Homo sapiens: one gene and its partner. The protein of the gene in region 1 purifies or fractionates together with the protein of each later gene. This does not show direct contact. Each region holds a gene or a part of one and is shown in the gene's direction. Other genes may lie near its edges.

Region 1 (7,153 bases):
CATGATCCGCCCGCCTCGGCCTCCCAAAGTGCTGGGATTACAGGCGTGAGCCACTGTGCCCGGCCCGGGGTCTGGTTTTATTCTGCATATAGCTATCTGGTTTTCCCAGCACCATTTATTGGAGAGAGTGTCCTTTCCCCAGTGTATGTTTTTGGCATCATTGTCCAAAATGAGTTGGCTATAAATGTGTAGATTTACTTCTGGGTTCTCTATTCTGTTTCATTGGCCTGTGTGTGTGGTTTTATGCCAGGATCATGCTGTTTTGGTAACTATTGTTTTGTAGTATATTTTGAAGTACTGCTTTGTTCTTTTTGCTGAGGGTTGCTTTGGCTATTCACAGTCTTTTGTGGCTCCTTACAAATTTTAGGATCTTTTCTCTCTTGCTTTTAAGAATGTCATTGGTATTTTGATGGGGATTGCATTGAATCTGTAGATCACTTTGGGTTAGTATGGACATTTTAACAATATTATGTCTTGTAATCCATGAGCTTGGAATCTTTCCATTTTTGTATGTTCTCTTCAATTTCTTTCATCTGTGTTTTATAATTTTCATTGTAGAGATCTGTCACTTCTTTGGTTAAATTTATTCCTAAATTTTTTATAGCTATTGTAAGTGAGATTGCTTTCTTGATTTCTTTTTCAGATTGTTTCCTGTTGTTGTATATAAATGCTACTGATTTTTGTATGTTGATTTTGTATCCTAAACTTTACTGAAATCATTTATCAGTTCTAATAGTTTTTTTTTTAATGGAGTCTTTAGCTTTTTCTAAATATAAGATCATGTTGTCATAAACAAGGATAATTTGACTTCTTTTTTTCTAACTTGGATGTCTTTTATTTCTTTCTCTTCCCTAACTGCTCTGGCTAGGACTCCCAGTACTATGTTGAATAAAAGTGGTACAATTGGGCATCCTTGTTTTACTCCAGAACTTAGAGTAAAGGCTTTCAGTTTTTCCCCATTTAGTATGCTGTCAGCTGTGGGTTTGTCATATATGGCCTTTATTGTTTTGAGGTGTGTTCTTTCTATACCCAATTTGTTGAGGGTTTTTATCATGAAAGGATGTTGAATTTTATCAAATGTTTTTTCAGCATCTCTTGAAATGATACGATTTTTGTTATTCTGTTAATGTAATGTATCACATTTATTGATTTGCCCATGTTGAACCATTCTTACATCCCTGGGATAATCCCACTTGATCACGGTGAATGATCTTTTTAATGTGTTGTTGCATCTGGTTTTCTAGTATTTTGTTAAGGATTTTTGCATCTATGTTCATCAAGCATATTGACCTATAGTTTTTTTTTGTTGTTGTATACTTGTCTGGTTGTGGTATCAGGGTAATGCTGTTCTTGTAGAATGAGCTTGGAGGTATGTTCTCCCCTTCAATTTTTTTGAATAGTTTGAGTAGAAGTGGTGTTTTAAATCTTTGGTAGAATTCAGCAGTGAAGCCCTCAGATCCTGAGTTTTTCTTTGATGGGAGACTTTATTACTGTTTCAGTCTCATTACTCATTATTGGTTTGTTCAGGTTTTCTATTTCTTCATGGTTGAGTCTTGGTAGATTGTGTGTGTCCAAGAATTTATCCATTGCTTCCAGGTTTTCCATTTTGTTATAGTGTTCATAATAGTCTCTAATGATTCTTTGTATTTCTGTGGTATCAATCGCAATGTTTCTTTTTGTCTCTGCTTTTATTTCTTTTGCACATTCTTAGTAGCTCCTTTTTATATCTCTATAATCATTTAATTATAATATAAAATATTATTGGTCTTTACTCTTATGGGGTTTTTAACACTTTTGTTGCTTATATTTTTTTTCCCCTGTAATTGTGAGGACAAAAAATAATTTATTAATTCTAAGTATAATCAGATTATTTTCTTGTTCTTCCTTCACTGTGTAAAAATAGTATGCTTGACTCCCTTTCTAACAGCAGACAGTGATTCTTGACTTTCCCCATATTCTTCCCTTCCTCTCCAGTTCTGATGACATTGCACATTATTATGTGTGTGGTTTTTGAGACATTCATTAGCCAAAGAGAAAGTTAAAATATACCTTACATATATGAGATGAACAAATTTGTAGGATTAAGCAATGTAGATCCAAAGGTTGGTTGATTTTAAAGTTCTTTTAAGTGTTCATGTATTTAATGCTTTCACTTAATTGACATTTGTGAATGTCAGTATGCATTATAAAGGTATTAGGTTTCATAACTTTAACATGTACATATATTGAAGTCATGGCATTTTATGTGTGTTTTTTTTCTTTTATAGAGTGAGTCTTTGGTTGTTTGTGATGTTGCCGAAGATTTAGTGGAAAAGCTGAGAAAGTTTCGTTTTCGCAAAGAAACGAACAACGCTGCTATTATAAGTAAGCTAAAAGTGATTGCCTCAAAGTTACATGGTCTTAATTTGTTTTTAATCTTGTAGCTACATTGAATGAACTGAACCGTTGGAAAGCAATGTTACTTCCTCTGTTTCATTTCCCCACCACCACCTTTAGATCACTTTAAAAAATAAGTAACAGCTAATTCTAATGTCACAGAACAGAGGTGGATTGTCCCACCTCCCCCATAGTCCTTTTATCAGCTGCCTGTACAGCTCTGGAGAAGGCGGTCGTCTTGGTCCTTGGGTAATGAGGATTCCCATCTGCAGTGACCCATCCAACCCATCCTTCTTGGGGGACTAAAAATAGCCTGGCCATTCATCCTCAAATAGAAACCTTTGCCTACACCTAAAATGACAAAGTTCAGCATTGTGTACATAGTGACTTTGGGCATTATTCCAGTTGTAGATTTGAACTCTGGTTTCAGGAAGAGTACTTTTAAGTGGCACTGGCACTATCTTCTGAAAATGGAAAAAGTGATTTGCATATTGCTCCTCCCACTGTGAGCTATATCTGACATTATGCAGATTTCCCTTGTATTCATAGGCAGTATTTAATATGTAGGTAGTGATTTAGAAAGATGAGGAAAGGATGAGGGGGTGAAAATGTAAAACTCTAGAGACCATGCTTAACAGAGATGCATCTGGCAGATGTGATTTAATCAGAGGTCATGACAACTTGTCATGAATTCTGATTTCATTATAAATAAATACTGCAATGTCGACATATGGTTCTTAAAAGTGAAAAAAAAATAAAAGTGAAAATGTGTGTTAGTGCCATTTACTGCAAAAGCTGAAACTATTTGAGATTACATTATATCTCACAAGATTTACTATCAAATTGGTGCAAAACCAAACATGGTCAACTTTGCCAGACTAACAGGAAAGGATAGAGGCATAGAGTATCTAAACTTATTTTGATTTAGCTTTGGATTACATTAGATATATTTGAATGTAGATATCACTTCTATTTGGTTATTCACTTTCTTAGAATAATGATACCGTGCCATGAAATCCTGACCTTGGAGAAGCCAGGAATTTTGAGGTTTCTCTATTTTGATCCCCGATCAGGCACTTTTTCCCTTGCAGTTCTGACCATGTTGCATATAGACCAATCAGTTACAGTTACCCTTTCAGGCTTTTTCTTATTATCTAGAAGTTGGATTTGAGTTACAAAGTTCTTTCATATACACAGGAAATGTAAGAAATTAACAGCAAGTTCTAAATAAGCAAATTAGGTACTGGGAATTATGGGTAAAAGCTTTTAAAAGCTGACAGCTTGAAAAGCAAAGCTAGCTAATAAACCGTAAACTAAAACTGTGAATTAGTTATATGCTTCTGTTTCTTGATGTTTTAATTTTAGATGTCCGAAAAAAAAGGCTGAGATTGTGTGGGTTGGGCAGATCAGGGTCACATTAGAATCCCAGCTTACTCATACTTGATTTTTATTTTAGTGAAGATTGACAAGGATAAACGCCTGGTGGTACTGGATGAGGAGCTTGAGGTTTGTTCAATGAACTAAATACAATTTTATAGTTAAGTAATTATTATTTCTCAAAAGATGCTATATTAGTTACATATGCTTCTAAAACGAATCTTGAACCTCCTTTAAATACATGCTCATTATGCATAAAAGCATGTGCTAATTGTGTAGTTTGTGATATTGCTAATTTAACTACCTTGTTTAAAAGCATTAGTGAAGTCCAGTGTAATAAGTGGTATAAGTTGGGGTCATATACTGAGTAAGAAGTGAGTCAACTTTGTAACTTGCTTCTAAGTTGCTTGACTAGTACTTAAAACCTGAAACCCTACAATTTAAATATCTGGTTTGTCAAATTAAGTAACTAGAGTAAAAAGAATTCAATTCTTTTTTCTGAAATCAGACATTGTTTCTTTCCGCTAAGATACTGGCTTATGTCATTCAGTATTTCCTGACAGCTGGGACATAAGCATAGAATCTGTGCCTCCCAGCCCCATATTTACTTAATAAATGGAATGAAACCAAGTGGGCAGAAGGAGGCTTTGATTGGATTGAGAATTTAGTAACCTGAGTTTATGTATAATTTAGTAAGATAAAATTTTATTTTGTAGCATGTGGTAATAAATTTATAACTGTTAGTAGAATGGGTGCTTGGTGTATCTCTTAAGGACTTATGGGTAAGAAAATGTTTAAAAGTTGCTTTTCTCTGTGGTGCCAGGGCATTTCACCAGATGAACTTAAAGATGAACTACCTGAACGACAACCTCGATATCCTTTTCTTAGTGCTTTAAAAGATTTATTTTCTTTAGTGGTCAGACCTGTTTGTGAGCTCATTTGTTAAACATCTAAAAGTATCCTTCTGTGTCATGATGACAGCCAAATTAAAATATGTGTGCATATACTAGACTAAGAAAAATGAAAAGTTGGTTTATTCGTGGGATGAATAATTTTCTTTTTAAAACTATTTCCTTTATTATAACGTGTACAATAAAAATTGAGAAAATAATCTGTATTAAACTTGTACTTTAAAAAGTTAAATTTTTTGAGAGATTATGTGATTTTATAACTTATCCTTGGAACCCATTTAATTTTGTGGAAAGATAATAATGAAGGTGTGGCCTAAAAGAATAGGACAGAAACTTGCAGCTCAGTAGCTCCCCAGGTGTTGGTAAATACCTGTCTGAGAGCAGTAACTTTAGTTTCTTTAACTTGAGAAAAACCTTCATTGTGTATAGTTATAAATATCAACATGATGATGGAAGAGTTTCATATCCTCTGTGCTTTATTTTCTCCAGTCCTGTTGGTAAGTGAATTTCTTTAAATAACACATATTTGGCTTAGATCCAATTAAGCCATTTTATACTAGACAAATTTTCTGCTGTTTTTAAAGATGAACATTGTTGAATAACCTAAATTGAGGAGGGTCTGTGTCTATGTGTGTCCATGTGCCTGTGTGCATGCATCCCTAGAAAGAATGAAGCATCATCTCTTAGAACTTATTTTCTTAGGATAAATTTCTAGACGTGTAATTGTTGACTCAAATCATACATGTATTTTAAGGATTTTGAAACGTGATGACATTCTAATATAGCAGAAGTATTTTCTTTTTATATTTTAATCATATAAAAATGTGAACTTCACATATAATTGCATATATTTGTGTTTCTTTTAAATAGTAGTTAACAGTGATATGCTTATAATCTTGAGAATGGTCCTAGAGTAATTTACATTGGGTATTAAAATGGGTTACTGGTATTTAAGGAATTCATTATCACCAGAACTTCTATCACCACTGTTCAGGCCTGCAATAAAAACTGCATTCACTGAGCTATTCTCCAAACTTCATAATTTGTATAATTTACTTCCCACTCAAAATATACTGCAGTATATTTTTAACTTAATATATCGGCAGAGTGAAACTTTTATCAGAGCAGATCTCCCTGCCCTACTGGTCCACTACCATCCCAAAACCTTGTGTATTTTAGTCATCCATAAAATTGATCTTGATATTTAGTGTCAAAGTTAAGATAGTGCAGAAAGTTTTTAATTGTTTGCAAGGCTCTAAAAGTCAGGATCTACAAATGTCTAGAATCTTTATTTTTGCCAACCTGTAGACTTGTTCTTGTTTATTTATAACTTAACTGTCTCTTTCTGTAGGCAGTGTGCAATGTAAGACTCAAAATACAACCCATATATATTCTGTAAACTCAATAGCAAAGGAAATCCTAAATGTGTCATTTTAAAAAATAAAAATAATGATAACCCATACCTTTCTCAAAATCTGTGTCTCATTTCTACACTAATCTCTCTTTTCCAGGATGTAAGCCTGAACAACAGATGATGTATGCTGGAAGTAAGAATAAGCTAGTCCAGACAGCTGAACTAACCAAGGTGGTATTTATATTTGACTGACTTGTTGAGACAATATTTTCCTTTAGACTATAAAGCAATAGCTAAAATAGTCTAAAGGAGTATTTTTTATGCAGGTGAAGGTTATTTAGACCAGATTAGTAAGTTAGCCAAAGCTTTTTGTTAACTGGAAATAGAATGAGATAGAAGCGTTTGAACCAAAGTGTATTTTTTGAATAAGTTGATTGGAAGAAATCACATTCAAAATATAGGCAGTGTTAGAAAGCCACTGTAACTATTAAATCTATTGAGAGTTAGTTTATCTGCCATAAGGTAATTTCTAATAGATAAGGGTCAGCATTGAAGTTTCTCTGAACCCTTTACCATAGTCTAAAATGAACCGAGTTCTGTGCTGGAATTCAGTATTATGCAGTTAATTGTATTGTTTCCAAATATAAAATTGTTAAGAATATTAATAAAGTTAGAACATTCTGTTTTATATGAGAACTTGCTTTAAGATTTAACATGTCCCTATTTTATGGTATTTTTGAAAGTTAAAGGTAAGAGGTACTTGGCTCTCAAACTTTATTTAACTTCCACATATTAGTTTGAATTGAAAAAGTATATGCACTTAAGGTTTTGAAATAGGATATTATATTGCCAAAACTGTGTTAGACAGTATTTCCTTTCAAGTTTTATTTTAAGAACAGCATCAGTATTTTCCCCTTGGGTGCTTAATAATCAACTCTGGAATGCCTTTAAGTGCCCTCTGCTGTTTCCCCTTAGCCCATGTGATTGTTACCACTGCTTTATAGACATTACTTTTTCCTGATTTGTAACACAGGGACACTGGAGTTGCTCTAACGGTTTGGGTGGTTAAGAAGGAGCTGTTAACGGCCTCAAGTCTGTTCTAATCCTGGGGATGCCCTACAGTGCTGAAGTTGAG
Region 2 (7,000 bases), on another chromosome or scaffold:
TAGTTGAGATTAAAGAGCTATGATAACTAAAGGCAATGGATGATCCTTACCAAGACTTGTAGTGGTTGAGGGAAAGGGTCATAAAAGACACATTTTGCGGCCGGGCGCGGTGGCTCATGCCTGTAATCTCAGCACTTTGGGAGGTTGAGGTAGGTGGATAATTTGAGGTCAGGAGTTCGAGACCAGCCTGGCCAACATAGTGAAACTCCGTCTTTACTAAAAATACAAAAATTGGCCGGGCAGTAGTGGCCATGTGCCTGTAGTCTTAGCTACTCAGGAGGCTGAGGCAGGAGAATCGCTTGAGCCTGGGAGGCGGAGGTTGTGGGGAGCCAAGATCGCACCACTGCACTCCAGTCTGGGCCAACAGAGAAAGACCCTGTCTCAAAAAAAAAAAAAAAAAAAAAAAAAAGACACATATGGGATCAGTTGACAAAACTGCAATAAAGATAGTAGGTTAGATTACAATTATTTTTATCAGTGTTAAATTTATTGTATATAATCAGAATCATTTGCATTTTGATTATATAATAAAATATTTTTAATTTTAGGAAATACAGATATTTTGGGATAAGGGACATGAGTGTGCGACTTATTCTGAAATTATTCGAAACAAGTTTATGTCTATAGTATGTACACACATGAAAGCAGAGAAAGATGCAAGGGATCCAGAACAGAGGAGGGAGACAGGTCATACGTGAATCCAGGTAAAGGGGAATCACATATTTCACGTTATTCCTGCAAATTTGTTTTTCTGTGAATCAGGGGAAAACAAAATTCAGAAAGGTGGGTATTAGCAAGGATGTACAACAGAGGGAACTCATTACTCTAGATAAGAATGTAAATCTGTTGAAACACTTTGTAGGATAATTATGTTGTACATTTCCTAGTTCAATTGTTAGGTATATATCCTAAAGTAATTGCTGTACATGTCCCATTTGCACCAGGAAATATGTGCAATAATGTAATAGGAGCATCATTTGTAATAGCCAAAAACTGAGGAGCTATCCACTACTATTAGTGTAGGAACATTTTAATACAGCAGTGAAAATGAGTAAACTATAGCATATTGGAATGGTATACGAATATCAAAATACTGAATGAAAAAAAGCAAGTCACTGAGGGCTATAAACAGAAACACTCCATTAATATAAAGGTTAAAACTAGACAAAAGTAAACAATATATTATTTAAGGCTACATATGTGAAAAAAACCATAAAGAAAAGCAAAAGAATGATTTGTAGTTAATTCTGGGGATGGAGGGTACACAGGAGGACTTGGAAAAGCCTGGTAACATTCTGTTTCCTAAGCTGGTGTTTTCTTTAAACTATTTCTAATACTCTAGTATGTATATTTCTTAATTTAAAAAAAGTTTCAAATCAGACAAAACTCTCTAAGCCAAAAAAAAGTCCACCACAAGTCATTAAATAAAGCAAATAATAAAACAGTATGTAAGTTATTAATTTTTGTTAAGAAATTACATATGCATCTACATTTTTGTGTTTAAATGGACATACAAGTAGTTTGAGAGGATAAACACGAAAATGTGGTTTTGGGGAAGTAGGATTTCAGGAAAATTTCTGCATCACCTGTATTTTTTTTAAAATTTTGAAATCCATGAGCATTTATCAGTCAGACTCACATTATGAGATTATACTTCTTAAAATTTTTATTGATGTAAAAGAATTGTACATATTTATAGGGTTATACTTCTTTTATCTTTACTGTTGAATAAGGAGCCTAAAGGTAGGGTCCATGTTTTGTACATACTTCTCTGTATTCTTATAATAAGAATTGGAAAAAAAATAAACCAAAACAACTAAAACCAAAAAATGTGTGGGAAGTCACTAACAATGTTTAGAAATATTAAGTGAGAAAAGCAGGTTAAAAGGCAGTATTTTACATATTTAATATTAGTGCCCTTAGTACGTGTATTCTGCGTCTTAAAATGAAAATGCTCCACTGTCAATGGTTGTTTTCTCTTGGTATTGTAATCAGTCGGTAGTTTTTATTTTCTTTGTATTTTCCTTATTTGTGTGTATTACATAAGAAAGCAGAAAAAAATAGAATATTTATAATTATTAAAGATTGAAGTTCTTAGGTGCTTTCAGTAACATTATCCTCACCTTTGGGGTCGTGGCTGCCTATCTGGAGTGCTGTCTTGTTAAGGATTAAGATGAGTGGCTGAGGATTTGCACTTCTGTAAGTGGCTGCTTCATCCTTTGACACCTGCGCTGATCATTTGTGTGCGCTGCACCTCCTTCAGGTGCTGCACTATCTGGCAATCCAGAAACCTGCAGACCTTGCTCGGCACCTGTTACCTTGTGTGATTCATGCAGCTGTACTCAAGGTAAAGGAAGAAGGTAAATGTCATATTTAACTAGTCATTAGTCATTTCCAAAGTGAAAGTATATTTTGCTTAATTTATTTAATGCTGGCTTCAATCTTTTCTAAAATAGAAAGTCTCGAAAACATTTCTTCAGTTAAGAAGATCATAAAGCAGATAATATCCCATTCCAGTAAAGTTTTGCACTTCCCCAATCCAGAAGACAAGAAATTGGAAGTAAGTTTGATGTAGTGTCAGAATCTTGCCAAGTGTTCTCCTCAGTTGGCAAAAATAATTTTTAAGATGCGTTTTCAAAGGGCTTTGCTTTTTTGCCATCTCGCAATGTATGCCTCTTCCTTTTCTACCGCCAGGAAATCATTCACCAGATTACTAATGTGGAAGCTCTCATTGCCAGAGCTCGGTCACTAAAAGCCAAGTTTGGAACTGAGAAATGTGAACAGGAGGAGGAAAAGGAAGATCTTGAAAGGTAATTGCTATTTGGCTAATTCAGTTTTGTCTGCAGTAGGAAAAGCCACCACTCTCTTAAGAAAAATTGTAATAGGATATTAAGACTCTTTTGTGGTAATCATATATTATTTGAAACAAGCATTGTCTAGAGACAGAAATAATTATCATAGCATTTGACCTCTCCCGTATTTCTGAGTCTCTACCAGGTGTTTCCATTCTTCCCACTTTTAGAAACAGTCTCCCAGAGCCTCCTTTTCTAGGGATTCCTTGGTTTGCTCTTGGAGATGTGGTGTCTGGAATTTCTTGTGGAGGAGCTGTTAACTGTGTTGCTCACCCTGCCCCAAAACTTTGTTTTCAGCTGTTACTATTCCTTGACCACAGGGTGCAGGTGCTGAAACCATTTCTGCTTACTGTTCCTAGTTGTTTATTTTAAACAAGATTTGTGATAGCAAAGGTGCACATCCTATGTGCCTTGCGATTATGTTTTGAAAGATTGACCAGATGGCTTTTCTCAGATGAAGCAAATGATTGGGGCATTCTCTTTATGAGACTCGGCACCATTACCAATGGAGCTTAGATCAGTGTGAGGCCCTGTTCATTTTTTGCCCATGTTATTTGGAAGGACAATATTGTTTTAATGTGTGATAAAGTGTTCACAAATTAGCTTGTTCAGTGGCTTAAATTTGTCATCATTTAAAAATTTTCATTAGCCTTTCCATAATAAATGGCATTATTGATGCTAAATAATTAATATTGTATGGCAAGGCATTTGCTGTCTTTTAACAAGTTTGTGTTTGAATTTTATGTCTTTTGTTAGGTGAAGTTTTCTCCCACACTGCTTTGCTCTTGAAAATGTCTTCCTTTTAAATGAGAAGAATAAGCTCTAATCAAGGGACTCGTTTCTAAAATAGTAGAGTATGAATTAGTGAGCAGGTGGTGCAGGTTTGGTGGCTTTGTGCCTTCAACTCTGTTAGTTCCACCATACGTTATCTGTGACATACTTGGAAGTTCAGTGTTTCCAGCATCTAATGGCACAGTTTACAATTGCGACTTTGCCCAACACAAGTATTTTAAGCATATGTGCACGTGTGCGTGCACACACAGACACATACCCCTTAAAAAAAACAAAAACAAATATGGATCATTGCTTTTATTGGATAAATATAACTTGGTTTATATTATACAATTTTTTTTTCATCTTTTATTAACTGTAGCATTTTCTAAGCTTCTAGTCTGAAAAAAATAGACTGAATATTTTTTCTTACACTTTGACAGAGATAGGCTTTAAACATTTTTTATGAGCACAGGTGAAAAAGCAGGAAGATTGTCAGTTAAGTCGATAATAATTCCAAATGTCAATCTTATCTTGCTGTAAAATTTCACTCCAACCTTGTTGGGTTTAGCCAGTATCAGCTTGAGGATTTGTCCACAAAACTCCTGTGGGAGGATGGACGCCCAGTGGCCTGGACAGCTCACTTTCCACCCTTTCATTGCCTGTCTCTGTCTCCTAGGTTTGTGAGTTGCCTGCTGGAGCAGCCTGAAGTGTTAGTCACCGGTGCAGGAAGAGGACATGCTGGCAGGATCATTCACAAGCTGTTTGTGAATGCCCAGAGGGTATGTGAGAGTCATTATTGACTCCATCATAATCTCTCCAAACCTCTACTTGGGAAGAGGCTGTTTTAGTTCCCACACGTGGCTGATCACACTCATGTCACCTGAGTGTAAGTCTGGGCATTGGGTTTGAACACTGAAGAAACAATGACTTCTGAGTCTTCGAAATCCATTTGATTTCTTACATGTTGAATTAAAATGATAAGTATATTCTAGGACCTAAATTTTAAAAATTAGAAGAGTCCAAAATCCATTGTTATAGAAGCTGGCAGGGAGTCAGTTAGCAATGGCCAGTGCTGTGCTGTGGGAAAAAATGTTTACTCACAGGTACTTTCAAATGAGAATGGAGTTCAGTTTTACCATCTTTAAACCCCATGTAGGGCAAAGTGGAGTCACAACTCAGCTTGAATTATAAATATAATTGTTCTTGTAATGGTGAGGAGATCTACCTTTGAGGTTTCCTAGAAAAGAAGAGGAAAACTTCAGATTTTTAGGGCTGTGGAAACAGATTTCAGCACAGAAAGAAAGCCCAGTTTGAAAAATTATCATAACCATTACCTCTAGTAGTGAAAGTAAAGATTTTAAAATTATATTGTATCTTGGTTACTGGCTAAGGGCTCTGGCATCCTACAGATAATTCTCAGTTCAGGGCTCATTAATATTAGGGATTCTGATAAAGGCGTTATGTGCACTAATTACACGCTTCCCCTTATATGGCACTGTGATTACACTAGAATGACCCAGTTTTGAGAGTGTAATTTTCAGAAACAAATAAGAAAAAGAATTTCTATGTGTCTACACGTGGAATAACAACTGGATAATCCCTGTAGAGTTGGTCTGGAGTACAACTAGTTAATATATTCAAATTCATAGCCAAATACACTGATAGGAATTCTTAGCAAGAGCTAAAATCTGAGTTTGTTTATGGGGCAGCTCCCTAAACCTCAGAATTTCAAATTAATAACCAAATATTTATTTCCTTATAAATTAGACTTCTAGCAAACAATAGATGCTTGCTTTGATTTATTTTGTTTTTCTCTCTGGCATGAAAACAAGAACCGAGTTTGGTTCCACATCTGATAATATCTATCCAGTTCACTACCCAGAAGCTTACAAGCGCATTTCCTTGTTAGCTACCAATATGAATGTTCCTCATATTGCAAAAATTCTTTCCTCTTTGATCATTTTTAATAAGTGACATGTTGGCTGGGTGCGGTGGCTCACGCCTGTAACTTTGGGAGGCTGAGGTGGGTGGATCACCTGAGGTCAGGAGTTCAAGACCAGCCTGGCCAATGTGGTGAAACCCTTTCTCTACTAAAAATACAAAAATTAGCTGGGCGTGGTGGTGAGCACCTGTAATCTCAGCTACTTGGGAGGCTGAGGCAGGAGAATCACTTGAACCCGAGAGGCAGAGGTTACAGTGAGCTGAGATCATGCCACTGCACTCCGGCCTGGGTGATAAAACTCCATCTCAAAAAAAAAAAAAAAGTTATGTGTTAAGAGGATTTAAAATGTGAAGTATTTATATTTTTAGTCCTGAGATTGTTACTTATTTTAGATAACTAAGCAAAATTATTTTCCCCAAAATAGAAATAACCTCCTTACCCCCTCTACTGACTGCAAGTAAAACTTTGACAATATAGGAACTTTTATATTTATTTATTCATTTTTTAAAGAGAGGGTCTCACTCTGTGGTCCAGGCTGGAGTACAGTGGCAAGATCATAACTCACTGCAGCCTTGAACTCCTAGGTTTAAGCAATCCTCTTGCTTCAACCTCCCAAGAAGCTGGAGCCACAGGCATGCACCACCACGCCCAGTTAATTTTTATATTTTTTGTAGGGACGGGGTCTCACTTTGTTGCCCAGGCTTATCTAGAACTCCTGGTTTCAAGCAATTCTCCTTCCTTAACCTCCCAAAGTGCTGAGATTATAGGTGTGTGTGAGCTATCACACCTGGCCTAGAAAATTATAAGAAAATATTAATCACATAATCTCACTACCCATTGATGATTTAACATCTAGTATATACATATGTATATATAATTTTAAAAGTAGGGTTATATTATATAATTACTTCATTATTCTTGTTTTCCACTTAATATACTTAAGATATCTTTCAAAATCACTAAATACAGGAACATAGTATATCATCTTTCAGTAGCCTCATTGTATAGCTAACCCCCTTAATGGCTACTGAAATTGTACATCCATCTACATTATGTCATTTAAGAAAAGATTTTAAAGTTTTCAGACCTTGTAGTGAATGTTTTTAGGGAATTGGTAGACTGTGTAATACATATAACAAGCATCTGGTTGGTACATTTTTAAACTCAGTTTTAAATGTCTGGCTGAAGTAAACTGTTAGAATTTATTCATGTAACTTTTCATTAGCTGATACTTTATATCAATTTTACTAATTAGTCAAGATTTTAACACATTTTTTTAAAAAGTTGTGATGTAATTTCACTTGGTGTTTTTATAGCTTATAGTAATTCTATATATTTATAACTTTTCTTTAAAATTATAAATAGTAATAAGCCTTATCATGATTATAGGTATCTCTGGTATGTACATACTTAAATGGAATTCAGCAAATAA

Evidence for each region. Proteins that work in one complex are often made in the same cells at the same time.
Region 2: the proteins of GMFB (region 1) and RAB3GAP1 purify together in Homo sapiens (co-immunoprecipitation; 2 studies listed by BioGRID and IntAct, with this or other methods). This does not show direct contact.

Annotation. Positions count from the first base shown.
Region 1 is NC_000014.9:54,478,882-54,486,034, reverse strand, and holds part of GMFB (glia maturation factor beta), read left to right. Parts: intron 1-2,267; coding exon 2,268-2,364; intron 2,365-3,832; coding exon 3,833-3,882; intron 3,883-4,576; coding exon 4,577-4,626; intron 4,627-5,078; coding exon 5,079-5,161; intron 5,162-6,175; coding exon 6,176-6,249; intron 6,250-7,153. UniProt on the Homo sapiens protein: This protein causes differentiation of brain cells, stimulation of neural regeneration, and inhibition of proliferation of tumor cells.
Region 2 is NC_000002.12:135,160,292-135,167,291, forward strand, and holds part of RAB3GAP1 (rab3 GTPase-activating protein catalytic subunit), read left to right. Parts: intron 1-2,263; coding exon 2,264-2,360; intron 2,361-2,456; coding exon 2,457-2,560; intron 2,561-2,694; coding exon 2,695-2,810; intron 2,811-4,302; coding exon 4,303-4,405; intron 4,406-7,000. UniProt on the Homo sapiens protein: Catalytic subunit of the Rab3 GTPase-activating (Rab3GAP) complex composed of RAB3GAP1 and RAB3GAP2, which has GTPase-activating protein (GAP) activity towards various Rab3 subfamily members (RAB3A, RAB3B, RAB3C and RAB3D), RAB5A and RAB43, and guanine nucleotide exchange factor (GEF) activity towards RAB18.